Homo sapiens: one gene and its partners. The protein of the gene in region 3 purifies or fractionates together with the protein of the main gene of each other region. This does not show direct contact. Each region holds a gene or a part of one and is shown on either strand. Other genes may lie near its edges. The genes, in order: SACM1L, SCAP, LPAR1 and SLC9A1.

The links.
Region 1: the proteins of LPAR1 (region 3) and SACM1L purify together in Homo sapiens (affinity purification with mass spectrometry; 4 studies listed by BioGRID and IntAct, with this or other methods). This does not show direct contact.
Region 2: the proteins of LPAR1 (region 3) and SCAP purify together in Homo sapiens (affinity purification with mass spectrometry; 4 studies listed by BioGRID and IntAct, with this or other methods). This does not show direct contact.
Region 4: the proteins of LPAR1 (region 3) and SLC9A1 purify together in Homo sapiens (affinity purification with mass spectrometry; 4 studies listed by BioGRID and IntAct, with this or other methods). This does not show direct contact.

Annotation. Positions count from the first base shown.
Region 1 is NC_000003.12:45,706,394-45,713,818, reverse strand, and holds part of SACM1L (phosphatidylinositol-3-phosphatase SAC1), read right to left. Parts: intron 7,040-7,425; coding exon 6,912-7,039; intron 4,322-6,911; coding exon 4,172-4,321; intron 683-4,171; coding exon 623-682; intron 1-622.
Region 2 is NC_000003.12:47,465,651-47,473,075, forward strand, and holds part of SCAP (sterol regulatory element-binding protein cleavage-activating protein), read right to left. Parts: intron 5,866-7,425; exon of another isoform or gene 2,403-5,865; intron 799-2,402; exon of another isoform or gene 699-798; intron 1-698. UniProt on the Homo sapiens protein: Escort protein required for cholesterol as well as lipid homeostasis.
Region 3 is NC_000009.12:110,937,332-110,944,756, forward strand, and holds part of LPAR1 (lysophosphatidic acid receptor 1), read right to left. Parts: intron 4,838-7,425; coding exon 4,090-4,837; coding exon of another isoform or gene 4,010-4,089; exon of another isoform or gene 2,581-4,009; intron 1-2,580.
Region 4 is NC_000001.11:27,109,835-27,117,259, forward strand, and holds part of SLC9A1 (sodium/hydrogen exchanger 1), read right to left. Parts: intron 4,453-7,425; coding exon 3,992-4,452; intron 1-3,991. UniProt on the Homo sapiens protein: Electroneutral Na(+) /H(+) antiporter that extrudes Na(+) in exchange for external protons driven by the inward sodium ion chemical gradient, protecting cells from acidification that occurs from metabolism.

The DNA of each region.
Region 1 (7,425 bases), on a different chromosome or scaffold from region 3:
AGAATGTTTACCTCCTTTTCAGTCTTTGCCTACAACAACTTCACTCCTCCAGGGAAAAGATATCCCATGCTAATTGTTTGCAGCTCAAACTACTTTTCCAAAAAAAGCATAGCAAATGACAAGAAATAAAGCAATTAGACACATCTATTTACCTAGATTCAATAATATATCATGTTTCCCTAGCTGGGCCTCCCTGTTTATACCTCATATGTGTAGACAAAGGACAGAAGAGGGCGGTGCCTGTGCATGTCTCTCCTGGGTGACTGAAGGGAGTCTCATCCCCAAAGGAAGACAAAAAAGAGCTCTCCCCTTGGCCAGGAAACTTGGCCCTGGCCCCTCATTTCTCCATTATCCATGTACCAAGATCCCCTGTATCTCTCTTAGTTAGACAAAGCAATGTATTTTTATTTAAGGCTTCTATAGAAGATCAGAGTAAAATAGTTAGGCTTCTTCAACCTAGAATGATGTGACAGGGTAGACCTGATCCAAGTTTGTAAGTTATAAACAGTTAAATTAGAATTGTTTCTCGAAATTCTTGGTGATTAGGAAGTCACTTTATAGCATGCATTGAATTAAAGCTTGGACTGTAACAATTAAGCAGATTTTATTTCGTGTACATTACCTCTGGCTGTGCAGAAAGTTCTCTTAGAAGATGACCATTCCATACAAACCGCTGATCTGCCTGAGAGAAGTTTTAAAATTTAATAAAATATCTCCTGCCAAGCTTACTTTCTACAGAAAGAAAACTACACCAATCAATGTCTCTTTCTGATGGCTAGAAGCCAGTTTCTTTGACAGGCCTCAAACAAAATACATCTCCCCCGCAAATCTGTACCTCCTGTGGGCATTTCTGTCTCATTGTCTCAGGCCAGACAGAAACCTGGGAGGAGTTTTACGGTATTTCTTTCCCTTACATTTAATTGTCAAGTACTAAATCTCCTTCAAAATCCATATTTTTTACATTTCTACTCCCACTATCTTTACCAACATCTGACTCCAGCCTAACTAACACACCTTCCCTTGCCTCCAGTTTAGGCATTAGCCCTCGCCACTCATTTTTCCACAATGCTACCAGCAGGAGTTCTCTAACATGTCCTGTCTCCTATCTGCTCAAAATTCTTCAATGACTCTGTCATCTAAAGAACCAAATCTCTGCATGGCCTAATCAGTCCTAGGATCTGGCAGCCCCTAATTAACTCTCTGATCTCATCTCTGGCCACTCCAACTTTCATAAATACAGAAGAGGCTCCCTCAACAATCTATATTTAATCAACTCTACTTAGGGCCAGACGTGGTGGCTCATGCCTATAATCCCAGCACTTTGAGAGGCCAAGGCAGGCGGATCACTTGAGACTTAGGAGTTCGAGACCAGCCTGGCCGACATGTCTCTACTAAAGATGCAAAAATTAGTCAGACGTGGTAGCACGTGTCTGTAGTCCCAGTTACTTGGGGAGGCTAAGGCACAAGAATCACTGGAACCTGGGAGGTGGAGGCTGCAATGAGCCAAGATCGTGCCACTGCACTCCAGGATAGGTGACAGAGCAAGACTCTGTCTCAAAAAAGAAAAAACAAACAAAATAACTGACTCTACTCAGTAGATTAATCAATTCTATTTATGAAGCATACCAACTGAACCACCAGCACCGCCGACTCTAAAAGTCACAGGGAATGGCTTTTGCACTTGACCACAACCAGCTGAATCGCACTTCCTGAGATTCAAGTGTGTGTTCCTGAATTTGTACCAGTCATACTTATTATTATTTCATCATTATATAGTTTAACTATTTTATAAACCAATGAAATAAGATGAAAAACACACTGCTGTTTCTATAAAGTTAAATGATTTGGAATGTAACTTGATAAGAGGCAAGTTGCTAAAACAAAACTGCTGTTGAATTTGGAGTGGGAGTGGCAACTAAAAAAATATAAAAGAACATAGTAAAAATGTACAGGATTCTGCACACAGATTTCTCTGTAAGTGTCAAAGTCTTTAAAGTGGCCCAAATGGGAAAGCCCTATGGATGTAATTTACACAGGGAAGACAATTCAGAATCAAGGAACCAAAAACAAAGAAAATCCTATGGCCGTACATAAAAACATTGACCAATGTAAAACTTTTAGGTTTTAAGTTAAAATATTTAGGGTATATATGTTCCATTTATCACTTTTATGATTCCCTATGTTAACATTAACTTTTTTTTTTTAGACCGTCTTGCTGTTGCCTTGGCTGGAGTGCAGTGGCGTGATGACAGCACACTGTGGCTTCTATCTCAAGTGAACCTCCCACCTCAGCCTCCCGAGTAGCTGGGATTGCAGGTGCGTGCCGCCACACCTGATTAATTTTTAAATTTTTTTGTAGAGCTGTGGTCTCCCTATGTTGCCCAGGCTGGTCCTGAACTCATGGACTCAAGCAATCCTTCTGCCTCGGCCACCTAAAGTGTTGGGATTACAGGCATGAACCACTACACTTGGCTAACTTTCTGTTTAGCTGACAAAACATTCCCATCTCATCCCAACAGATGAGATGGCTTTTTCTGCAGCTTAGCCTCTGCCACCACCTCTGCCTGGAACCCCCCGGCCCACTGTCACCTGACCAACAAATCTTCATCAAGTCTCAGCTCAAAAGTTACCTTTCTGTGTAAAGTTACTGTCCTCTGTAGATACCTTACTTTATAAAGTTGTCCCTGACAACCTCAGGCAAAGACCCTCATTCCTTCAGGATCCCACCTCACTTTGGTACATATCACCATTATAGCAACCATTCTTTGACTACCACTTCCCCAGCAGACTGTAGGCTCCCACAAGACAGGGTCCACAGCTTCATTCTGGGTCCCCAGGGGCTAGTATAGTTCCTGGTACATGGCTGACGTTGTAGAGATGTTTCATAAACAAATGGAGAATGTAGCAACTGCTTTTAAAAGCAAGTCTCTTTGTAGTTAAAAGCCAAGTTTCTTGAATGCTTAGCCTGCACCTAAACTTCCATCTAAGCCTACATACAATTTTACCAAATTAGAGTTGAAAATCTCACCCAAAAAAGCCAGTCAACTAAAATATTAATTTAGGTTGAACCACATGAAATAACCATTTTTATTGGTCAAAAATGGTCAATTACTGGCGACTTCACATTGTCCAACCTAATAAGTAAGATGGAGCGACCTTTTAAATTCTGTCTTCTCATTAAACACTTCTAAGGTGTGTCAAAAAAAAATTCAGGTAGCAATCATCCAGGTTCCTGAACAAAAGAAACTTTAAGTTGAGATCATATGAAACCTAATTTTAAAGATATATTCACTGTATATTAAAAAAAAAAAAAAAAAAGGCAGACTGGGCAGGCACAGTGGCTCACGCCTGTAATCCCAGCACTTTGGGAGGATGAGGTGGGTGGATCACTTGAGGCCAGGAGTTCAAGGCCAGCCTGGGCAACATGGCGAAACCCCATCTCTACTAAAAACTAGCCAAGCGTGTTAGCACACGCCTGTAATTGCAGCTACCTACAAGGCTGAGACATGAGAATTGCTTGAACCCAGGAGGCAGAGGTTGCAGTGAGCTGAGATCGCACCACTGCACTACAGCCTAGGTGACAGAGTGAGACTCTGTCTCAAAGAAAAAAAAAAAAAGCAAAATAAAAAAAACCTTAAAAGGATATTTTCCAAGTTCTAGTGACTTTTGTTACATTTTTAGTTATAAAAATTATAAATAAGCATCACTACAGAAGAAATATCAACTGTTAGAATATGAATTTTATAAGCCTAATTACACTGCTAATGTAACTGCTACACTACCGAACACTGAGAGTTAAGAAATTACAAATGAATGCAATGCTAGTTTGAAGATTTGACATCTGAGAGTTAGCACTTGGTAGCCTGGTAATACTTATGCAGAAATACAAATTCTGAAAGATTTTCCTCTAATAACTTACATGTGTGTTTATACAAAGATTTCTGAATATCTACACCAGTGATTCTCAATTCTGGCTGTATATATACACAGATTCAAGGACTCACACACTGGGATTGTGATGTATATTTAAAACAGGGTATATTTTCAAAGCCTCATACATGATTCTAAGATAGCCAGGACTGAGAAAAATCAATATAAATTTTTATGCATGAAACAGAGACATGTCCCTTTTAAAAACCTAAAAATAAAAATAATTGAAGATCAAGCTTACCCTTTCCAAGAGACTCATTTCTTGGAATTCAGGACTAGTGTTGGATAGCCGCTGCAAAGTATGGGTCAAATCATATGTTGTTGAAAAGTAAAATCCATCCACATTCAAGACATGGTTTAGCATCGCTAGGAAGGTTTTATTATCTTGTAACTATAAACAAAGAAAAATCAGTATAGCTCATAATTGAAAAGGAATCTGCCAGCATGAGAAAAGAATACAAATTAAATCCTGTTAAGTCCAGTCTCATTAAAGACTACTGGCACAAGGACTGAGCCAGTGAGGGGGATGCTCGCCATTTCCCTGGGATGTAGGACAGTTCCTGACACACAGAAGATACTCAATAAACACTGTAGGGTACTATTAGGTAACTTGATTAGGTAGGACTCCTCCCCTTTGTATCCTTTACAAATTTTATTCTCAAAGGCAGAAGAGTAGTTTTAACAAAACATCACCTTCGGTTATGACCTACTGTGTGCCAGGTATTTTCCAAAGATTCCCTTTAATCTTCACAACAGCCCTGCTAAGTTAGCATAGCTATCTTCGACAAATAAAACACATAAATTTACGACGGGCCCAATAATGCAAACAGCAAATAACAAGATACTAACATCATCCACATTCTCAAGAAACGTTCCCTGGTTTGGGATGGACGAGAAGTAAAATGGAATTCTTTTTCTTTAAAACAAAGATTAAAAAGTCCAGTAAAAGCAATATTTATCTTTATTTTTGGGAAACCATTTTAACTAGCTTTCCCAATGAATACTAAGATTGACATTTGTTTTTATCCTTGTTTTAAAAAACAATTGTTAATGTTTGGTAACGTTTAATCATTACTAAATGATTAACTTGTTAATCTACATGTTACAAATCTACATATACAAAATTTTTTATTTGTGCTCAGACATGTTTTTAAAATTAGCTACACAGCTTGACAACAAAGAATAACAATCGAGAAGAAATTGTCTAAGTAAATATGACTGGTCTATTAAATAAATACAGCTGTTTTTATTTCTTTAAAATATGCCTAGTAGAGAATGAAGATATTGATATATATTTCTTGATATATATAATAAAAAAGAAATTCTAAAGTATAAAAAGCATATCCTGTAGTTTTACTCAGGTAGGCAGTGCTATAATTTTATTTTTTAAAATGTTTATCCTAAGTTATATGTTTTAGAATAATATATTTTCTTCTAGAAACATTCTTATAAATTGGGTGTAAAAATACAACTTAAAATTTTTAAATAGCAAACATGTAACTAAAATTACATTAAGAAAACAATCACTCTCAACAGGTATATATATCTCTAAACAATGTTGACTTTAAAAAGTAAGTTTCAAAGAATCAGAACAGGGCAATGCCATTCATGTAAGTTTCATACACACTCCGAGCAAAAACAGATCCTGTTTAAATATGAATACAGGCAGTCTTTACTTTGTAAAGTGGGAATGTAAAAATTACCATGTTATTTTCATCTTAATAATCTTAAGCTATCTTAACAGTCAATTGTAAAAACTATGACTGTTTCATGACCTTTAAAAATTTTTTTTGTCAAAACATTAAAAACTCTATTGTAAGTTATAGATATTAGTTATAGATATTAACTTATATAGTTACGTTGTAGATGTAACTTGTAAGTTATATATAGTAAATTATAAGCATAAATGAACAAATTGTAAAACTAATATTTAGCACACTATAATTTAAAACATTAGAAACACCGAGAATAAAAAATATTTTCTTTGTAAAAAAATTTATCAAGAGACTTGAACAGTGCTTGCCGCCTTCTTGTCATATAGATTAAGATACAGAATATTTCTTCTATCCCTGGTGAACTGTCATACACCTTCCTAAGTCTAAACCAACTTCTGACATTTTATCCTTTGCACTTTCAATGTTGGGAAATATCTCCAAGGTTTCCTTTAATGGGAAGTCTGTTGCAGGCATCACTTTCTCTGGGATACTGTCATCCCTTTCGTCACAGCCACTCCATCATTAATGTCGGTCAGTTCGCCTGCACCAGGACCTCTGGCTGCATACCTACTGTCCCTTGAATGGTGAATAGTGTCAGCATTCCCATGGTCAGCTACTTCTTCTATGCTCCATTTATGTTCAATTTCAATTTCTCTTCCAGAGTTGTTGCTTTTTGTTTTTTTGCACCTTCATCTTTGGTGGGTTAATTCTTCAGTTAATAAACTGGAGTAACTGAAATTTAAGCCATGCTGTTTGGGTACTGGTGTTAACTAAACTATGGTTACTGAAATCTGTGCATACAGGAATAGTGCAAAAGGAAAACTGCCTGAAAGAATATATACACATTTCATAAACACACACACACACTTACATTCACATGTGGTAAAAATAGAGAAAACCTCTCTGGGAAAGAAGGGAATGAGTTAAGAGGAGTAGAACTTCAAAGGTATTTATATTTTATTTCTTTACAAAGAGGATATGAAGTTAAATCTGGTGTTGAGTACCCGTGCATTTCTGTTTTCCCTTCTCTCCATATGAAATTGCATAATTTAAGAACTGAATCTTTAAAAAAAAAAAAACAAGAGCAACAAATGATTTAAAAAATATTTTTTATGCCTAGGTAGAAAAGTAGGTAGAGTGATCTTACTCTATAGGTTGTTAAAATAATTATAGCATTCTTTGTATTCCACAACACCCTCACCCTCCTCTCCCCAGCCCATGCTACTTCTTTGGGCGCTGCAATTAGTAACAATTTCCAGTTCTTACCTGAATATCAGTTAAGTGCAACATTGTCTTCTTATAAGAAAGGACATCAAAATCTGTTGCTTTCCAGACTACATGACTGAAAAATTCACCTACTTTTATCTTTTTGGTAATGACTATAAGATAATTACCTGCAAAAAGCAAGCCAAACACACATAATTATAAAAATAGTAACTCTAAAGGTAGAAATAGGAGTCCTTATTGTTTAACTTTAAAGGCTAGTAGAATGAGACTATATTGTGCCACTCAGATAAAAGGCCCATTTTTAAAGCAACCTTACAATTTATGAATAGAAAGGTCAGCATATTATTTAGAAAAATTCTTACTGAAAGGTCATGTTTTTCTCAAAAAAGATAAAAGCAAAAGCTTTTCATAACCAAAGGATTTGTCTTAGTAAATGGAAAGTAGAGACAGAAAATACTTCTCTTTCTCTCTTTCATCACCCCCAAGGGATACAGACCTCTGCTAATCATTTCCCAGCAGGCAGCTTAAAGCATCAGGACGTGAGATCTGACAC
Region 2 (7,425 bases), on a different chromosome or scaffold from region 3:
CCCACCTACTTAGCAGGCTGAGGTGGGAGGATCACTTGAGCCTGGGAGCTCAAGGCTGTAGTGAGCAGTGACTGCGCCAATGCATTCCAGCCTAGGTGACAGAGCAAGACTCCGTCTCAAAAAAAAAAAAAGAATATTGTCTTCCAATCCATGAACGTGGGATTTCTTTCCATTTACTTGTTTAAAAAAACAAAAAAAAAAAAGCTGGGTGCAGTGGCCCACGCCTGTAATCCCACCACTTTGGGAGGCCAAGGCAGGTGGGTCATGAGGTCAAGAGATCGAGACCATCTTGGCCAACATGGTGAAACCCCGTCTCTACTAAAAATACAAAAATTAGCTGGGCGTGGTGGCAGGTGCCTGTAATATCAACTACTCAGGAGGCTGAGGCAGGAGAATCGCTTGAACCCAGGAGGTGGAGTTTGCAGTGAGCCAAGATTGCGTCACTGCACTCCAGCCTGACAACAGAGTGAGACTGTCTTAAAAACCAAAAAAAAAAAAAAAAAAAAAGAAAGAAATTCTCCCCATTACTTTGTCCAAAGAAAAAAGTGGGAACCCTGAATAGCCAAAACAAACTTGAAAAACAAGAACTAAGTTGAGGACTCACACTTCCTGATTTCAAAACTTACTATAAAGCTACAGTAAGCAGAACAATGTGGTACTGGCATAAGGTCAGACATATAAAACAATAGAGAGCCCAGATCTTCTGTAGTTCATCAGTATGATACCTGGGTGTTTCACACACATGTGAGATGAGTCATTCTTGAACCTTGTTATGATGTCAGCACTACCCATCTAACCTGAAAAAAAGAAAAGAAGAAGAAAAAAGAACCCAAAAATAAACTCTCACAAATATAATCAACTGATTTTTGACAAAGATGCCATGACCAGTCACTGGGGAAAGGACAGTCTCTTCAACAAATGCTACTGGGAAAACTGGATAGTTACACGCAAAAGTGAAGTTGGACTCTTATACACAAAAATTAACTCAAAATAGATCAAATAAATGAAAAAAGAAGAGCTAAAACTGTAAAGCCCTTAGAAGAAAATATAAGAAAAAGATCTTCATGATGCTGAGTTTAGCAAGGATTGAAAAGTATAGGCAACAAAAGAAAAAAATTGATAAACTGGAATTCATAAAAATTAAAAACTTTTGGCCGGGCGTGGTGGCTCACGCCTTAATCCTAGCACTTTGGGAAGCCAAGGCAAGCGGACTGCTTGAGCTCAGAAGTTTGAGACCAGCCTGGACAACATGGCAAGACCCCATATCTTAAAAAAAAATAAATACAAAAAAAATTAGCCAGGCATGGTGGTGTGCACCTGTAGTTTCAGCTACTTGAGAGGCTGAGGTGGGAGGACTGCTTGAGTCCAGGAAGTGGAGGCTGCAATGAGCCAACACTGTAGCACTGCACTCCACCCTGGGTGACTGAGGGAGACTCTGTCTTAAAAAAGAAAAAAAAAAAAAAGTTAAAAATTGTGCAAATCACACAATAAAGAGAGTGAAATGCTAACCAACAGAATGGGAGAAACTATTCACAAATCATATATCTAACAAGGGTTTAATATCCAGAATTTGTAAAGAATTCCTACAACTCAACAATAACAACAAAATAACAATTAATAACTCAAAGTGAGAAAAGGACTTGAATGAACATTTCTCTAAAGAAGATATACAGGCTCGGTGGGGTGGCTCATGCCTGTAATCCCACCACTTTGGAAGGCTGAGGTGGATGGGTCACTTGAGCTCAGGAGTTCAAGGCCAGCCTAGGCAACATGGTGAAACCCCATCTCCACAAAAAATATGAATATAAGCCAGGCATGGGGGCACATGCCTGCAGTCCCAGCTACTTGGAAGACTGAGGTGGGAGGATCACTTGGGACCAGAGGCTTGAGGCTGCAGTCAACTGTGATTGCGCCACTGCAGTCTGGGCAACAGAGCAAGAAGACCCCGTCTCAAGAAAAAGAAAAAGAAAAAAAAACCCAAACAACAACAAAAAAGAAGATATACAAATGGCCAATCAACATATGAAAAATTGCTCAACATCAATATTCCTTAGAAAATACAAATTGAAATCACAATGAGATACCAATTCCCACCCACTGGCCCTTGGGTACATGTGCACAACATACAGGTTTGTTACATATGCATACATGTGCCATGTTGGTGTGCTGCACCCGTTAACTCGTCATTTACATTAGGTTTATCTCCTAATGCTATCCCTCCCCCCTCCCCCCATCCCCCGGCAGGCCCTGGTGAGTGATGTTCCCATGTCCAGGTGTTCTCATTGTTCAATTCCCACCTATGAGTGAGAACATGCGGTGTTTGGTTTTCTGTCCTTGCGATAGTTTGCTCAGAATGATGGTTTCCAGCTTCATCCATGTACCTATAAAGGACATGAACTCACCTTTTTTTATGGCTGCATAGTATTCCATGGTGTATATGTGCCACATTTTCTTAATCCAGTCTATCATTGATGGACATTTGGGTTGGTTCCAAGTCTTTGCTATTGTGAATAGTGCCGTAATAAACATACGTGTGCATGTGCCTTTATAGCAGCATGATTTATAATCCTTTGGGTATATGCCCAGTAATGGGATGGCTGGGTCAAATGGTATTTCTAGTTCTAGATCCTTGAGGAATCGCCACACTGTCTTCCACAATGGTTGAACTAGTTTACAGTCCCACCAACAGTGTAAAAGGGTTCCTATTTCTCCACATCCTCTCCAGCACCTGTTGTTTCCTGACTTTTTAATGATCCCCATTCTAACTGGTGTGAGGGTATCTCATTGTGGTTTTGATTTGCATTTCTCTGATGGCCAGTGACGACAAGCATTTTTTCATGTGTCTGTTGGCTGCATAAATGTCTTCTTTTGAGAAGTGTCTGTTCATATGCTTCACCCACTTTTTGATAGGGTTGTTTGATTTTTTTCTTGTAAATCTGTTTAAGTTCTTTGTAGATTCTGGATATTAGCCCTTTGTCAGATGGGTAGATTGTAAAAATTTTCTCCCACTCTGTAGGTTGCCTGTTCAGTCTGATGGTAGTTTCTTTTGCTGTGTAGAAGCTCTTTAGTTTAATTAGATCCCATTTGTCAATTTTGGCTTTTGTTGCCATTGCTTTTGGTGTTTTAGTCATGAAGTCCTTGCCCATGCCTATGGCCTGAATGGTATTGCCTAGGTTTTCTTCTAGGGTTTTTATGGTTTTAGGTCTAACATTTAAGTCTTTAATCCATCTTGAATTGATTTTTGTATAAGGTGTAAGGAAGGGATCCAGTTTCAGCTTTCTACATATGGCTCCTGGATCGATAGTTTCTATGTAGAATAATGAAAACATTCTGGAAATGGATAGTGATGATGGTTGCATAACAATGTGAATACATTTAATGTCACTAAATAGTACACTTAAAAATGGTTAAAATGGGCCAGGCACGTTGGCTCACACCTGCAATCCCAGCACTTGGGGATGCCAAGGTGGGCAGATCACTTGAGGTCAGGAGTTCAAGACCAGCCTGGCCAACATGGTGAAACCCTATCTCTACAAAAAATACAAAAATTAGCCGGGTGTGGTGGCACATGCCTGTAGTCCCAGCTACTTGGTAAGCTGAGACAGAAGAATCGCTTGAACCGGGAGGCAAAGGTTGCGGTGAGCAGAGACCACGCCGTTGCATTCCAGCTTGAGTGACAAGGAGACTCCGTCTCAAAAAAAAAATCACCAAATAATTTTTGTTTGTTTGTTTTGAGAGTCTTGTTCGGTCACCCAGGCTGGAGTGCTGTGACACGATCCTGGCTCACTGCAACCTTTACCTCTGGGTCCAAACAATTCTTCCTCAGCTTCCCAAGTAGCTAGAATTACAGGTGCGTGCCACCATGACCCTGCTAATTTTTGTATTTTTAGTACAGGCAAGGTTTCACCATGTTGGCCAAGCTGGTCTTGAACTTCTGACCTCAAGTGATCCACCCACCTTGGCCTCCCAAAGTGCTGGGATTACAGGCATGAGCCACTGCACCCAGCCACCAAATAATTTTAAAAGTATAATGAGAAGAGGCTTGCCTGCCACCATGTAAGACATGCCTTTGCTCCTCTTTCACCTTCTGCCATGATTGTGAGGCCTCCCCAGCCATGTGGAACTTATATTCATTGCTCAACAAGGAAGAGACTTGCAAGGCTATTACCCTGGGCAGTTGGCAAGACTCCATTTTGATCATAGTGCAAAGAGAGCTCTCAGATTGGAACAAGAAATTAGCCACAGATTCACTGAATCCTTGACCTCTTAGTTCACTGCCACAGCTCTACTATTGTGAAGAGAGAAGCGGTTTTGAAAGAAATGCTTTTAAATTAAAATAACCAAGGCATTCGAACAAAATATCGTTTGGCATTCTTAGGTAACTCTTTTAGACTAATGTAATGGTAGCAAAACTACTTTTAAGTGTGTATACAGATGGCTCTAATCCTAAAATATTTACATGCTGCAAATTATTTTCAGATTAAGTTGGTCAGCTTACAACAGGGGATCAAGAGCTAGCCTTAAGAGAACTTGTTTTTTACCCCATTACCAGTCTTATTGCTGATGCTGGCAAACCATCATACATTTAGGCCAATGGTTATATGTAGGCTCAGGTAAGAAGATTACTGCATCTGCTCAGTAAGTGCATCACCGTTGGGAAAAATAAAAAAGAACCTAGGGGACATAGCCAATGAGGAAGAAGACTGGCACTAGAGACCCTAAAGGGGCTTGGGATGGAGAAACCCAGGTGTAGCATAGGGCTATAGTGAGATGTGGGACTGGTAAAAAGGATTAAGTGAACATCTGTACACAGGAGTTAACACCCTTATCTGGGCAAGAAGAAAGCCTGACAACTAGGCATCAGCTCCTCAGGCAGAAAGCTAAAGGGTCTTCTCTAAGGACAGGAAAGGATCCCAAAGAAAAGAACCTTTGCGGGGCGCAGTGGCTCACGCCTATAATCCCAACACTTTGGGAGGCCGAGGCAGGCAGATCACCGGAGGTCAGGAGTTCAAGACTAGCCTGGCCAACATGGTGAAATCCCATCTACTAAAAGTACAAAAACTAGCCAGGTGTGGTGGCAGGTGCCTGTAATCCCAGCTACTTGGGAGGCTGAGGCAGGAGAGTCGCTTGAACCCAGGGGGGCGAAGGTTGCAGTGAGCCGAGATCGCACCACTGCACTCCAGCCTGGGCGACAAGAGCAAGACTCTGTTTCAAGAAAAAAACAAAAAAACCTTACCAGTTCCCCAGCATACTAGTGGGCTCCCTCCTCATTTACCCCAAAGTAACACCTATCAATTAATAAACTTCTCCCCCCAAAAAAAAGTATAATGAGGATTAAAGGATATAGATGAAACAAGAGTGTCCCCAAGTTAATGACTAAGTGACAGACATAACTGAGTGATAGGTACACAAGGGCTTATTGCTCTCTATTTGGATGTATATTTGAGTTTTACTATAATAAATATTAAAAAACAAACAAGTCTTCAAAATGTGCAAAGCTTTTCAAGAATTTATCCCCTTACAAATTTTAGCAAAAATGAGTACAGAAGAGGAGGCAGGGAAAGGCAAGGCTCAGAGGGATTCAACAGTATAAAAAATAAAATAAAATAAGAATAAGAACAAAGATTTGGCTATAAGAATACAATCACAGTAATATTTAGAACGGGAAGGAAATGTGTTATGTATTTTATAGTAAAACCTGAGACAAAGAGCAGAAACCATTAAAAACAATCTAGACGATTAAAACACTTAAGCACAAGCTGGAAGACCCTGGATACAAACTTGACTCTGAGCTTCCTAGTGGCCAAGGCAGAGAGAGGAAAACATCAACATAGTTCTAGTATACTTAGAGGTATACTACAGGCGCATGCCACCACACCTGGCTAACTTTTGTATTTATAGTGGAGACGGGGTTTCACACATGTTGGTCAGGCTGGTCTCGAACTCCTGACCTCAGGTGATCCACCCTCCTCAGCCTCCCAAAGTGCTGAGATTACAGGCATGAGCCACTGTGCCTGGCCAACACCTTGTATATTTTATGCTTTCTGAAAATGCTAAATATCAAATAAGCCACTGGTTCCCAAATGTTTTGATCATGAATGCCCAACAACAAAAATTCAAGTATATGCTCCCAATACATGTACACTTACATATAAATTATATATGTACTACAGTGATAATACAGTGTACATTATAAAGTACATAATAAAAATTATTATGGTGGTTCATGCCTGTAATCCCAGCACTTTGGGAGGTTAAGGTGGGTGGATCACTTGAGGCCAGGAGTTTGAGACCAGCCTAACCAATATGGTGAAACCCCATCTCTACTAAAAATACAAAATTAGCCAGGTGTGGTGGTGCACAGCTGTAATCCCAGCTACTCGGGAGGCTGAGGCAGGAGACCAAGATTGCAGTAAACCAAGATAGCATCAATGCACTCCAGCCTGGGCAACAGATTGAGTGAGACTCCATCTCAAAAAAATAATAATAATAATTAAATGGGGCCGGGCGCGGTGGCTCACGCCTGTAATCCCAGCACTTTGGGAGGCCGAGGCGAGTGGATCATGAGGTCAGGAGATCGAGACCATCCTGGCTAACAAGGTGAAACCCCGTCTCTACTAAAAATACAAAAAAATTAGCCGGGCGCGGTGGCGGGCGCCTGTAGTCCCAGCTACTCGGGAGGCTGAGGCAGGAGAATGGCGTAAACCCGGGAAGCGGAGCTTGCAGTGAGCCGAGATTGCGCCACTGCAGTCCGCAGTCCGGCCTGGGCGACAGAGCGAGACTCCGTCTCAAAAAAAAAAAATAAAATAAAATAATAATAATAATAATAATAATTAAATGAAGCTGAAATAAACAGGAAAATTAGTTTTATTTTTTTCCTGAGATCCACGTGCATCTTTATGCTTACATACCAACTTTGGACCCCACTGCAAAGCTTCCTTATGATTTAGCATCCCTGCAACCATTCTAGGTTAGTGCCCTTGACTGCTTAAGCAGAAACTGTCAAATGGCAGTGGTCAAATTGCTGTCACCTTCTTGCTGAGTTCCACCATCCCCACACTAGAGTCAGTGACGCTGGCTTCCTCCCACCACCCCTACCACCTTCTTCCACTACCCTTACCTGCCAATGAGCAACAGAAAAGACTGTGGGCTGCGTGCAGTGGCTCACGCCTGTAATCCCAGCACTTTGGGAGGCCGAGGCGGGCGGATCACCTGAGATCGGGAGTCTGAGACCAGCCTGACCAATAGGGAGAAACCTCGCCTCTACTAAAAATACAAAATTAGCCAGGCGTGGTAGTGCATGCCTGTAATCCCAGCTACTCAGGAGGCTGAGGCAGGAGAATCGCTTGAACCTGGGAGGCGGAGGTTGCAGTGAGCTGAGATCACGCCATTGCACTCCAGCCTGGGCAAGAAGAGCGAAACTCC
Region 3 (7,425 bases):
TTTTGATTAAAGGGAAGTAGAATAACATGGAGGGGACAAACACATGGGTTCTGAAACCCAAGTGCCCAACCTTGAATCCCAGCTCCTGACCTTGAATCCCCGTTCCTATACTTCCTAGCTGTGTGGCTGTGGGAGAGTTACCTAACCTCTCCTTACCTCAGTTTTTATCAACTGGAAAATAAGGATAACAAATCAATAACAGTACCTATACGCCATAGGGTTGTAATTTACAAATACTAATTTCTAAGGTAGCACATGATTTATGCCAAATAAGTATTTCACAACTAAAAATAATTATTAAGATCCAGTACTCACTCAAAAGCAGCTTAATACAAGATCATGCTTAAAAACCAGCCATTGGTATTGCCCATTATTAATCTCAAAGATGACTTTATTTTAATATAACTTGACTCATAACAAGTCAGTTGCTGACCAACAAATTCTTCTTTTGATCATGAAGACTGAATAGGTCTAAAACCCAGGGATCATTTTGATGAAGTGAAAATGGAAACTGAGTAATCATTCCCAGAATAAATGGAAGTAAAACAAACATATTATTTACTGAGCACCCATTGTAGCCAGGAGTTTTCCAGGCTGTTGTATTTTAGAAGGCATAGAACATAAAGGTGTCGCTAGGTTTGGCTCCCACATAGCTGAATAAAGTGGCATTTACTGTAGTGAATTCACTACGGCTCTGGTCTTCAGTTTTGAAGGCAGAGAAACTTGGTTTTGTCATCACATGCATTCCCTCAGCATTTATTGACTACCTACTTTGTACCAGATAGCCGTGACAGGCAATGTGGCAACGTGGAGAAAACAAACAATCATTACAATCCTGCCTGCCCTCACAAACCTGGCAATCTGGCAGTGAAGACAAATACTAAAAACCAAATGTACACAAACTAAAGTAAAATAACCAGATTATCAATGGACTAATTTACAAAGAGAAGAACTTCGAGTAGACCAGAATTCTTGTTCCTACTGAAGTGGGAGACCAGCAGGACTTGTTTTCACAACGCTGCTGATCAAAACAGGATGTAGCAAAGAAACCAATCCAAACCAGCAAGGACCAGGAATCATAATACATTTGCATTAGACATTCCTACCAGCACCATGACGGTTTACAAATGCAATGGCAATGACTTGGAAGTTAACCTTACATGGTTTCAGGAACTCCCCACCCCTTTTCCAGGAAGTTCATGAATAACCTGTTTAATTATATTTAGCATTAAGAGTGGGGGCCCAGGCATGGTGGCTTATGCCTGCAATCCCAGCATTTTGGGAGGCCAAGGCAGGAAGATCACTGGAACCCAGAAGCTCAAGACCAGCCTGGGCAACATGACAAAACCCCATCTCTACAAAAAAAAAAGAAAAAAGAAAAAAAAAAATCTGGGTAGCTGGGTGTGGTGGTATGCACCTGTAATCTCAGCTAATTGAGAGGCTGAAGTGGGAGAACTGCTGGAGCCTAGGAGGTCCAGGCTACAATGAGCCAAGATCATGCCACTGCACTCCAGCCTGGGTGATACAGCAAGACCCTGTCTCAAAGAAAAAGAAAAAAGAATGGGTATAAATATAACTAGCCAGCAATCCATTAGTGCTGTTCTGTGCTACCCTGCCTATGAGATAGCCCTGCTCTGCCTTTGGAGTGGTCACTTGGCTGTACACTGTTACGCTAACAAACTTGCTTTCTTTCACTGTTGGTTCACTCTTGAATTCTTTCCTGGGCAGAGCCAAGAACTCCCCCAGGCTGAGCCCCAATTTTGGGGTTTGCCTACATTATGACAAGACCAACCCATGTCTCCCATGTAACCGTGCCTATCTAAGGATGGACACTTACAATTCAAATAGGGGAGCATACTGTAGGAATGGCATTAGGCACCACGCCTTGAAAAACATCTGTTAGGATTGTGACTTCCCCATTCTAAACTTTCCAACCACTCCCTGCCCACATCCTGCCCATTCTCTTATTCTTGCTACTTTTCTCAAAAAGGCTACGGTCCATTTAATTTCTGTTTCCTATATTACAATCTTATTCCCATCTTTCTTCACCAAATACCTTCACCTATCACCGTGACGGGGTTTTCCATGTTCTGAAAGTTCTTCCATCTCACAGCTTTAAAAATCATGCTCTTTATTCCAGAGATGTCAACTGCATTCGATCTTTGTGGAGTATACTAGTTTAAATATTATTTCTGTTATTTTAAAGTTAGTGGTTGTGCAGTGGTAGTAGTTGGGCATGGGAAAGTGGCATTTAGGGCAAATGTACACTGAAACACTAGCTCCTATAGCCTCAAAATGATTATTTCAACCTGAAAAACAACCCAAAGAGGCACAAAAGTATGTGAATCATTCAGTACATTGCACACTGGAATACACAAGATATTATACAAAGGTCAAAATTAAAACAAGAACTTGGCAGGTTAATAGTCCAAGTTCAGTAGTCATTTGCTGCTGGCAATTCTGCAAACTATGAGTAGCACTTGTCGTAATAGAAAAAGTTCATGCATATAAAAAATGTCAACCAACATTTAGGTCATCAGCAAATAAATATTTGAGTCAATACAGGAAAAAAGTCTCATGTTATTTAATGTCTCATGTTTTATTTCATACAAAAATAGCATCCATGGTAAACAAAGATGTGTTTTATCCACATCATGGAAAATGTGGCCTTGTGGCACAGGTGTGCTTAAGGTCCTGTTAATAAACATACAGAGAAACCATTTTTGTAGTTCTACTAATCTTCATTGGATGCAATAAGACAATCTCATATCTGAGGTGATGGGGTCCTCAGTGTTTCAGTTAGTTAGGCAGGGTTTTAGGTGTGTCAGTGATCCCAAGGCTTAGTTGCTATTCTCACAGGTCTACAAGAGGGTCAACAATGAGTATAGCTGAAAATGATGTCCATGATGCAGTCATCCTAACCAAAACAGACGAGACCTATGCATCAATCTGAATACTACTTTATATAATGATCAGCAGGACCCTGTCTCCTTCCAGTGGCTAAAATTAAGGTAATTCCCAGAGTTTCAGAGGAGCCACATAATCCCATGTTACATTCACCCAAAAATGCTATATAAATTGGAGCACAGAGAATTATAGGAACTTTCCATTGAATTTCTGTGGGGAAAGAGGAGGTGATAAAATGTTTTTTTTCAATTTCCATAGGGAAAGATGAAATGATAAAAGGTTTTCAAAAAAGATTTTTTAATGTGATCAAACGTTAACCTGAATATAGTCTATGGAGAATGTATAATTCCATTGGGTAATTATTTTAAAAAACTCTCACTCTACTCTCAGCTCCAAAGGAAATGTCTGTATCTGTCCTTTTCATGGAGCCAGCACAGAGCGTAGAACATAGTAGGTGCTCTTTAACTACCTTCTACACACATAAGTGAATATATTCTTCTTGATCACTACTATGAATTTTTCATCCAAGAAAAACAATGCTTATTTAAAAGCAGAAGGTATTTGAGTCTACAAATCTTGCTCTTCACCTTGAAATATGAATTAACCTCCACTACTACAAATAGAAAATTAATAGAAAATAAGGAAGTTTTCATGAAGATGACTGTCAGAGAATATCATTAATTCCAATCTGTTTTGTTCAGTAAATCTATATAAAACCTTGATATACTACCTATAATGTAGCAACAATTACAGAATAGACTAACAAAAATAACTATATATGGAAGCATATTCATATTCTACAAAAGCACTTTCTGTCTGAAAATATGTAATACAGAAACCACAATGCAAAAGTTTCACAATTTAGGCTGTAAGAAAAATGAATGAGTTTGACTGGTAATTCTGGTATTTTCAATATTAGATAGCCAAACTCTTCAATGACATCTTTTACATCATCATCATTTATACTGCACCACTGGGACCCATGTTTCCCTAACGCTAATTCTATAATTTTAGGAAGACTCATAAGCTGACATTTAATATAAAGGTGCCTCATCCCCTTGTAATTCCTGGTGAATTACCTGGTGAATATTCATACTGTTGGTTACCTCTGACATAAAATAATGTGGTTTATGTTAGTCACTGAGAATCTATAAAGTAAGTTACAGTCAAGACAGAACTTACCAAGCACAATGACCACAGTCTTCAGAAGACTCATCATGGTATCCCGATTCCGCCGGGGTCCAGAACTATGCCGAGACATTCTCATAGTCCTCTGGCGAACATAGCCAAAGATGTGAGCATAGAGAACCACCATTACCACAAAGGTCACCAAGTTGAAAATGGCCCAGAAGACTAAGTAAGAGTCACTGTAGAGGGGTGCCATGTTGGAACAATTTTCAATATCACAGATACAGTTCCAGCCCACACTGGGTATAGCACCCATAACGATGGCCATAGTCCAGATGACCACAATGACCACCACTACCCGCCGGTTGCTCATCCGTGTGTGGAGCTGCATGCGGAAAACCGTAATGTGCCTCTCGATTGCAATAGCCAGTAAGTTGGCCACAGATGCCGTCAGGCTGGTGTCAATGAGGCCCTGACGAAGGAGCCATGTGCTAACAGTCAGTCTCCGAGTATTGGGTCCTGTGTTGAACATGAGATAGAAGTAGGCCAACCCAGCAAAGAAGTCTGCAGCAGCCAGATTAGCCATTAGGTAATAAATAGGAAAATGGAAGCGGCGGTTGACATAGATTGCCACCATGACCAATAGGTTGGCCAACATGATGAAGATACAAACAGTGATTCCAAGTCCCATCACCAGCTTGCTGACTGTGTTCCATTCTGTGGCAAGATGCTTTCCACTTCGGTTATAAAAGAAGGCAATGGACTCGTTGTAGAAGCACTGTGGTTCATTCATGGCTGTGAACTAAAAGAAAAAGGAGAAAAGATGATGAAAAAGAAGGCACAGGTCCAAATTTAAAGCTTATATAGATAACACAAGACTTTTATAGTACATGCAACAGAAAAACAAAAGCAAATAATTTGAACATTTGATCCTGCATACCATCTTGTGATTATGTTGAAACTCCAAGGTTTCTCACAATATTACTGTCCTTAAGATTAAAGGCAGTTGGAGTTAAATAAATGACAAGGTCTCTGCTTAGTGGTTTTATGTCATTGAAGTCTACTACAAAAGCCACATGGCCAAGAAATCTTGCTTAAAATACATGAGACAGACAAAAATTTTGCAGAACATTGCAATTGGAATATTTACCATAGTAAAATCTATTTGACCTGTTATTTAGGGAATCTGTAAACACAGTTGGTTTCTAGATAGGGTATCATTGCCCTATTATTCTGCATTTCTATTCTCACACAGTATGTTCCATGTGGGACAGACATTTTGTAATGCAGGTTCCCACAAGGACCATCATTCCAAACATTTCAAACAAGTCACTGTGCATCAAAGGTTTTTTGCCCAAAGCCAGCATTTGCTGCTCAACATTCCTGTGGTCAGCACTGCCTACCCCCACAACTCCTTAAGTTCAGAATAGGACTTGTCAACCAATCTATGACATTTGAGAATTTTTTTTCTTTTTGGAGGACCCAACGTAACCTCCAAAGAGTAGGTGACCCTTTGACAATGTTCTACAAGTAAAATATACTTAGATTAGATGCAGCATATTTTTTAAAGTGTGGAGTGAAAATGCTTTATAACATGTTTACTTATTCTTCAACATCATTGATAAGAATATATTTGCTTATTATTTACAATATTTATAATAATCACTTTAAAAAGGATTGAGACAGTTTAAAACAGAATAATATATGTTTATTTATCTATCATAATATATAATATATAATTATATATAATTATAATATGTAATTATATATAATAATATATTTAAACAAAATTAGAAAATAAGTAACAAACTAGAAATTAGAAAAGTATACATCACATAGAGTAAGTCATTCTTCTTGAAGCTCTAAGTTTACCTGGGACCCCTAAAATTAAAAAATATATCTTGAAGACGGTTCACATTCTACTTTTTCATTTTTATTTTGCTTTGAATCTAATAAATTACCCAAAACATATGACACTTTTAACCACTATTTTTGATCAAATATTCTACTGAATATCCATAGGTTGTACACTAAAACTTCCAAGAACAACGTGAAATACTTAAGTGGTTAGTCTTCTGACTTACCCAGGCATCTAAAGTCTCTTTCCTTATCTAGACTTTAATAGCTTTTAGATTATGCTTCAAATATTATACTTAATACATTGTATAATTATTTATCTCTTTACTTGTCTGCTTCTTAAAGAGATCACAGTCCAGGGCACAGTGGCTCACATCTGTAATCCCAGCACTTTGGGAGGCCAAAGTGGGTGGATCACTTGAGGTCAGAAGTTCGAGACCAGCCTGGCCAACATGGTGAAACCCCCTCTCTACTAAAAATACAGAAATTAGTCAGACATGGTGGTGGGCACCTGTAATCCCAGCTACTCAGGAGGCTGAAGCAGGAGAATCGCTTGAACCCGGGAGGTGGAGGTTGCAGTGAGCCAAGATCATGCCACTGCACTCCAGCCTGAGTAACAAAGCAAGACCCCAACTCCATCTCAAAAAAAAAAAAAAAAAAGACAAAGTTGATCAAGCTGTTTCCCCACTGGACATGTTTTAAGGGCTTATGAGTGCACGTTAGATAAAAGTCTAAACTTTTCAATCATCTTATCAGACCTTACTTACCTGCCTCTCCAGCCTCAACTCAAGATATTAATGACTCCAAACTCTCAGCTTCAGCTCTATTTAATGTGCTGTGCTCTCTCTCTCAACTCTGGTTCTCAACAGTGAAAACAGTGGTTTCTTGTATCAGAATTACCTGAGAGTTTGTAAAACACTGATTGCTGACATAACCCGCAAGAACTTCTGATTCAGTAGATCTGAGGTAGGGTCCCAAGTAATGCCAAGGCTGCTGGTCCAGGGAATCACTGTATCATAATTGCTTAATTATCTGTTGATCCCCTCTACACTAGGCTATGAAACCCTATAAACGCAGAGATTCTAGCTTGCTTATTCATTGTTGTATAGTATCCAACTGTTCTATGGACTACATGCTAAATACATATTGATTTCCTTAATAAATTAAAGATATTTCCAAAAATGTTTAAACTTTACAAATTTTCTTTCTGCAAAGGATATTTAAAACTTTGTCAAGACAAATATAAAAGTCTGTTCTTTTCATTAGTCTCTATAACCATCTACCTTCTCTGAATCAAGAAATGTTTAAACCAAATATCAAGCGTATATTATTTCCCAGCATTCCAACTTCTGAACACCAAGTAGCAACAAAGTTAAGCAGAGATATATGCAGCTTCTTAGCCCTTCCCACAGAGAAAAACGATAAAGTTAAGGATGGCAAAATTAAGAAGTATAAATTATCTCTTTAAGCCACAATGTACAAAGATGAGTAAAACTGACAGATTTTCTCTAAAGGTAGAGAAAAGTGCCCTGT
Region 4 (7,425 bases), on a different chromosome or scaffold from region 3:
CTGGGGTCCACCCAGGGCAATCCTGTCCCCTCCGTTAACCATGGCCACAAGAAGAGGCCACACGGTAGCAGAGAAACCCTAGTGCCAAGCAGGTGCTCAAAACCTCAGCCTGGGGCTGAGGGGCTTGCTCTGGGCCAGCCACGTGCCCCACTGGTGAAGGGTGGGCCCTGGGAAGCTCTGTGAAGACCCTGAAGCCAAACTGCCTGGACTGGAATCCTGGCTCTGCCACTCCTGAGTTGTGTACAGGAAGCAAATTCATCTCCCTGTGTTTCAGTTTTCCTGTCTATAAAATGAGGATAATAATACCAAATCTTAGGACTGCTGTGAGGACTAAATCAGCGAATCAAGTGCTCGGAGCCTTACCTGATGCAGTGTTAGCCACATCTGGTGCTATCAAGTCTGCCTCTCACTGCCTGACCTTGGGCACGTCATGCCCATCACTGGGTTTCAGTCCCTCCTTCAGCACAAAAAAGGGACGTTCACACAATGAACTAGAATGTCATTTCTTAACCTCTGGAGCTTTCTGAAAATACACATGTTCAGGCCATACTGGACTTGGACTCTCTGGGATAGGGCCAAGAAATCTCTATGTAACAAGCACCCCAGGGGTTGCAATGAACAGCCAAGTTCAGATGCTATGGAATTAGAGGCTAAGGCATCCCTGTCTCCTGGACTGGGAAATAGATGGTCATTGCAACACTACCATCAGATGTTTAAGTGGCACTTCATACACTGTAAAGCCCTTTGATAGTCTTTATCTGAGTCGACACTCAACAACCATGCGAGGCAGGTGGGTCAAGGATGCTCCTTTGCTAAACCGAGGCTCACAGTGGTAAAACAACACGCCAGGGGGCCCCCAGCCCAGGAGCAGAAGAACTGGGCCCAGAACTTATTCCCTGACAGCCATGGCTGAGGCCTCCCCAGCAGGCTCAGCTTTGAGGATCTGCCCCTCCTATTGCTAGGTCCCTGAGCTGCCTGGCCTACTCAAGTCTGTCCTAGACAGCTCTGCCAGGAAGGAGCAGGGAGTTTCCAGGCCTGGGGGAAGGGAGGGAAGGACGTGAGGATCCATGACAGGGAACCCTCCAAAGCCCCCAGGACCTGGAGCAGGAGGAATGGACCGTGAGGAGTGACCTGTCTAGGGCACAGACCTGAGACCAGGCAGCTCAGGGTCAGCCTCTGGCTTTACTCTCTGGGAAATGGGGCACTCACACCTATGCCAAGAGCTCCAGAAAGACCTGACTTGGGCCAGGCAGCAAGGGGAGATGCAGAGCACTGGCCAGGCCTGGTGCGGCCTGGCCCCAGCTGTCTGGGGGATAGGACAGGGCTCCAGCGGCAGACAGCCTCTTAGCAGGTGCGTACTCAGCCGTGGGCTAAACTCATTCCTGGCCTGAGGGGATTCATGGGTCCTCATGGTCTACCACATGGGCCCATGGAGTCGGCACAGAGGGGAAAGTCCTCCTTTCTGGCCTGGTGCTATTACCCCTGGAACTATAGAGAAACAGAGTAACACAGTGGTAAGCACTTGGGCTTTGGACTCAGACTACGGATTTGAACCTCAGCTATATCATATATCAGGCTTATGTAACCTCTCCGTTCCTCAGTTTCCTCATCGCAAAAAAACTGGAATATAACTGTGTCAACCTCATGGAGTTACTGTATAGATTAAATGAGGCAACATAGGCCAGACACAGTGGCTCACGCCTGTAATCTCAGCACTTTGGGAGGCCAAAGAGGGAGCATCGCTTGTGCCCGGGAGCTTGAGACCAGCCCAGGCAACATAATGAGACCCCATATCTACAAAATAAATAAATAAATAAATAAATAAATTAGCTGGGTGTGATGGCCAGCACCTGCAGTCCCAGCTACTTGGGAGGCTAAGAGGGGATGATCATTTGAGGAGTTTGAGGGTGCAGTGAGCTATGATTGTGCTACTGCACTCCTGAGTGACACTGTCTGTGTGACAGGAGACTCTGTCTCTAAATAAATAAATAAAAATGAGGCAATACACATTCAGACAGGAAGCACCCAATGAACACCAGCAATCACTACCACCGCTGCCACTGCCTTTGGGAGACATGACCATGGGTCCACAAATGGCTGGGTCTGTTACCTGCTTGATGCAACCATGCCCCAAGCTCCACAGCAGTGCTCACCTGAACCCCAACACCCAGATCCCACTGGAGAGGGCTTTATCTTTGGCACTCACTGGCTTCACAGACATTAGTGAGTATGACTCACTAATGTAAGTAATCCTGTAAGAAGCCTGGGAGGATGACAGGCTGAGTACTGCAATCCCTGTGTCACAGATGGGGAAACTCAGGCTCATGTGGTAACCCTGGGCAAGAGCTAGTGCTAGAGGAAGCCAGGATGGAGGCCTGCCTGCTCAGGTCAGGCTATTCTACCCAGCCCCATGAGGAGGCGTGGGAGGAACAGGAAGCTGAGGCTGCCAGCAGCTGAACACCACAGTCTGTCTCTACTCTGAGGTGCTGCTTCCTGAAGGCTGGGGCTGCAGAGGAGGGAGTCATGGCCTGGGAATGCACATGTGCCCTTGAGCTTTCCTGTGTGTGCAGCTGCTCTGAGCGGGACAGCTCAGGAGGGGGTGGGAGTGTTCTCACAACACAACGTGAGCATGCACATGCACACATCTGTTTCCCAAGGAAACCAGCTGGGAGGAAGGGCATGTGCAGGTGTATATGGTGCTACCACGTGCAGACCCTGGAGGAAAGCACTAATCCTCTGCCACTTTGCAGCTATCAAAGGTGAGGCTGGCTGGGCGCAGTGGCTCATGCCTGTAATCCCAGCACTTTGGGAGGCTGAGGTGGGCGGATCACCTGAGGTCAGGAGTTCGAGATTAGCCTGGCCAACATGGCGAAACCCAGTCTCTACTAAAAACACAAAAATTAGCTGGGCATGGTGACACACGCCTGTAATCCCAGCTACTTGGGAGGCTGAGGCAGGAGAATTGCTTGAACCTGGGAGGCGGAGGTTGCAGTGAGCTGAGCTTGCGTCACTGCACTCCTGTCTGGGAGACAGAGCAAGACTCCATCTCAAAAAAAAAAAAAAAAAAAAAAGGTGAGGGCCACAGAGGTATAGCATTTGCTTAAGGTCACACAGCAAGCAAGTGGCCAACTTCTTTTACTTATCACCTTCTAGATGTTTTGGAGACAAGGCCCCTTTCCATAATCTCCGCCCAAAAACTGTGCACAAACCGAATTCTAACTTAAGATATAGCCAACATGAGAGCTGAAAGGCCCCTCACAGATGATATGGTCTGTGAAGAGGGAACTGAGGCACAGAGAGTGTAAGTAATTTGCCCAAGCTCACATCAAAATGCAAGAGAAGGGCCAGGCTTGTTGGCTTAGGTCTGTAATCTCAGCACTTTGGGAGGCCGAGGCAGGAGGATGGTTTGAGGCCAAGAGTTCAAGACCAGCCTGGGCAACATGGTCAAACCCCATCTCCACAAAAAATTTAAAAAATTAGCCGGGTGTGGTGGTGCATGCCTGTAGTCCTAGCCACTCGGAAGGCTGAGGCAGGAGGATCTCAGGCCCAGGTATTTGAGGCTGCAGTGAGTTATGACCGTACCAGTTCACCAGCCTAGAAGACAGGGCAAGACCCTGTCTCTTAAAAAACAAAAAGCAAGTCAAGTCAAGGAGGGAGCATATAACCTAGCAAAACCAAGAGCTTAGGCCCTGGAGTCAGTCAGACCTGGTTCAATCACAAACTGGTTCATACTCCAACAGGTTATTTAACTTCTTTGGGCCTGTGTCTCCCCTGGAAAATGAGAATAATAAGCACCTCTTAAGGCAGCCATGAGGACTTAAATGAGATAATCCATGCCGAAGGGCTCAGCATGGTGCCTGGCATACGGGAAGCGGGAATGTGCCTCAGCTGTTTTTATTACTGTTATTAGCGGGTGGATGAGGGATTCACTGGTGGGCCTGGATTTGGGTTTGTACCGTTTGGACATGGGCATGGCCCCTGGCCTCCTCACCACAGTGACGGCGTCATTGAGCAAGGACTCCCCAAAAACAAGGATGTGCAGCAGCTCATTGATGTGAATTTCCTCAAAGACAGCCAGAACCGCCACGGGGTCCACGGCCGAGATGATGCTGCCGAAGAGCAGGTTGTCCAGGAGGCCGATGTTGTTGATCTGCTCACCGCCCACCAGGCACACGGCGTACATGAGGCCGCCCAGGAAGAAGGCGTTCCACAGCGTGCCCACCACGGCAAAGATCAGGATGGTGCCCAGGTTTTCTGTGAACTGCCGCAGTGGCAGGAAGTAGCCCGCATCCAGGATGATGGGCGGCAGCAGGAAGAGGAAGAAGACGTCGGACTGCAGGAAGGGGGGTGTCTCGCCTACACCCTTGATCAGGCCCCCCACCAGCAGCCCCACCACGATCAGCAGGCAGCTCTCCGGGACGATGCTTGAGATAGTGGGGATCACATGGAAACCTGCGGAGGGCGAGAGAACGGGAGGCCATGGGCTTTCGGAGGAGCCAGGAGAATAGAAGGTTGGGGATGGGCCGGGGATGAGGAGCGCAGTTGGTGAGAGGTGCACAGGCTGGGTCTCAGAGGGCTGCTCTGTTAACTCTCTGAGCCTCCGCTTCCTCGCCTGTAAAATGGAAGGGACAATGCTAGCTTCACAGGTTTGCCATCATAAACCAAGTGACAGTGTTTTTAAAGCACTTTTTTCAAAGGATATATACATGCTATCTCTGTCACTGTCATAAAATGTTAGAAAGCAGCAGTTCTATATGCTTCCAGAAGGCAGAAATTATAAATTGATTACTGACGTGCCAAGTACCTACGGGCATCACCTACGCCTGAACCCAAGGCATTATTCCAGGCACAAGTTCAGGGAGGCAGATCTGAGCTCAACCTGAGGAATAACAATCTAACAATTCTGTCTGAGGGAAGATGGTAGTTCCCTATCACGGAGCTGTTTAAGCAGAAGGCAGACAACCAGCTGGTGGGGAGTGGCATAGGAGACAGAAGAAAGCACAGAAGAATCTAAGAATACCAGCGTGGGAAGGAACTTGGGGATAATAAGGCCTGGGGTCTGCAAACCTGCAAAACAGTAGGCTTTCCTACTGAGTCCAGGCAGCTGCTCAAGACACGGCTCAAGGATGTCAGTGGCAACCAGCTTTGGCAGGTGAGATAAAATCTATTTGCTATCCCGCTTCTAGCTCAATGCCACCCACTTTAAAGATGGGGCAACTAAGGCTCAGAAAAGGGAAGGGACTTGCCCAAAGTCACACAGCAAGTGGGGAGCAGAACTAGAATAGAACACAGGTCTGATGCCCCAGTTCCCATCAAACTGCACAGTTCTGTAATTCAAGCTCTCCTATCCTTCCCTCCCATCAAGGCCTCCTCACACACCCCTCTGCCTGGGACCCACCAGCCATCTCCCCAGGCCGTGTCCTGGCCAGCAACAGGCCGCTCTGCTGTAGTCCACCTTAAGGCTTCAAACCCAGAGCTGAGGAGTAGCAAAAATCCCCGTTGAGAGGGCCTCTCTCAATATCAGGTATGGCCAGAGAACCCTGAGCTCCTGTGAGTGGTTTACTTGTTTGTTTTGTTTTGGGGTGGGAAAGTAGGTGGAAAAAAATCTGAGCATCTAGTTGTATGTTGGGTACTATGCTCCCAGGGTTGGCATAGCCAAGAGGGTTTGTCCCTTTGCTCAAGAGGAAAGCTCTCTCTGGCCTGGCATGGTGGCTCATGCCTGTATCCCAGCATTTTAGGAGGCTGAGGTGGGAGGAACACTTGAGGCCAATAATTTGACACCAGCTTGTACAACATAGGAGACCTCATCTCCACTTAAAAAAAATAGCTGGGCATGGTATGCACCTGTAGTCTCAGCTAGTTAGGAGGGCCGAGGCAGGAAGATCACTTGAGCCCAGCCTCAAAAAAAAAAAAGAAAGAAGAAAGCAAAGCTCTCTCTCCTCCCCTTCCCTATCTTGCAAGCTCTGTGCAGGCAGATCCCATAACTGCTTATCATTATACACCCAGGGCTAGGACACAAGAAGTGCTCAACAAATATCAGCTGACTTGAAAATACACAGGGCTGGGACATCACCCAAGATTTCCGATAACCTGCATGCCTGGCCAGGCCTCTGCTCTCATTACTTACTCTTGAGATCCTTGGGACAGAGGAGGAACTTCCCTCTCCATGCCCAAAGCCCTTCCTACTCTCAGGTAGGAATCTGGGCAGTGCTAGTACGGTGACAAGTCAAAGTTCACACTGCTGGCTGGGCACGGTAGCTCACGCCTGTAATCCCAGCACTTTGGGAGGCCGAGGTGGGTGGATCACCTGAGGTCAGGAATTCAAGACCAGCCTGACCAATATGGTGAAACCCTGTCTCTACTAAAAATATAAAAATTGGCCAGGCGTGGTGGTGGGTGCTTGTATTCCCAGCTACTTGGGAGGCTGAGACAGGAGAATTGCTTGAACACAGGAGGTAGAAGTTGCAGTGAGCCGAGATCACGCCACTGAGCTCCAGCCAAGATCACTCCACTGCACTCCAGCCTGGGCAACAGAGCAAGACTCCATCTTGAAAAAAAAAAGTTCACACACTGAACACTATCCAGGCCCAGAATCCTGGCACAGTGCCAAGCACCCTGAAGACACTCAAAACACATTGGGAAAAAAAGATGTCTCCATCCTAGGCCAAGAGGACCTCGAAGGCACCATGTGCATTCTCCTGATTTCAAAATAGACATGACCAAAAGTCACTTTTTGTTCATCTACTTCCCACATCAATAAAAGGGAAAATAATTCCAAAATCACCCCTTTTGCTGAAAAGTCCCCCAGTCTTTGTACTGTCCACCAGTCAACATCCAGTGTGTAGCTGGCTGGTCCACTGGGAAGGGCTAGTCATGTTGGACCCAAGTCTCTCTTGCTGTAGAGGATAAAGCCCACATTTTCAGCACTGCCTCTGTCATCTGCTCTTGCCTCATGTCCCATTCTCCCCACTGTCAACTCTTAGGTTTCAGCCTTGCCAAATTCCTTGCAATTGCCCCATATGAGCCACATCCTCTTTTGCCTGCCAATCTTCACCTAGTCTAGTTCCTCTCTCTAGAAATCATTCCTCTACCTCTACCCCCACCATATGTGGCTGACACCATATCCTCTGCCTGCCTCCTCCTTCAGGAAGCATTCCCTGACCACCACCTGTCTGCTCAGGTTAGGGCAGGAATCTTCTGGTGCTTCCCTCTCTCATAACCTTCAATCCACAGTCATCTCCCAGGTTCCTCTCTCTCTTCCTGGCACCCACCGAGATCAGTCAGACAACCCAGGCAGAAGCAGCTGAGACAAGACAATGGCATCAGACCCCAAAGACCTGCAGTGTGCTGGAGGGGAGACAGGCACAGCGCAGCGGAGATAAGCAGGATGAAGATTTAGGGGAGCAGAGCTCCTACAGGCAGGGG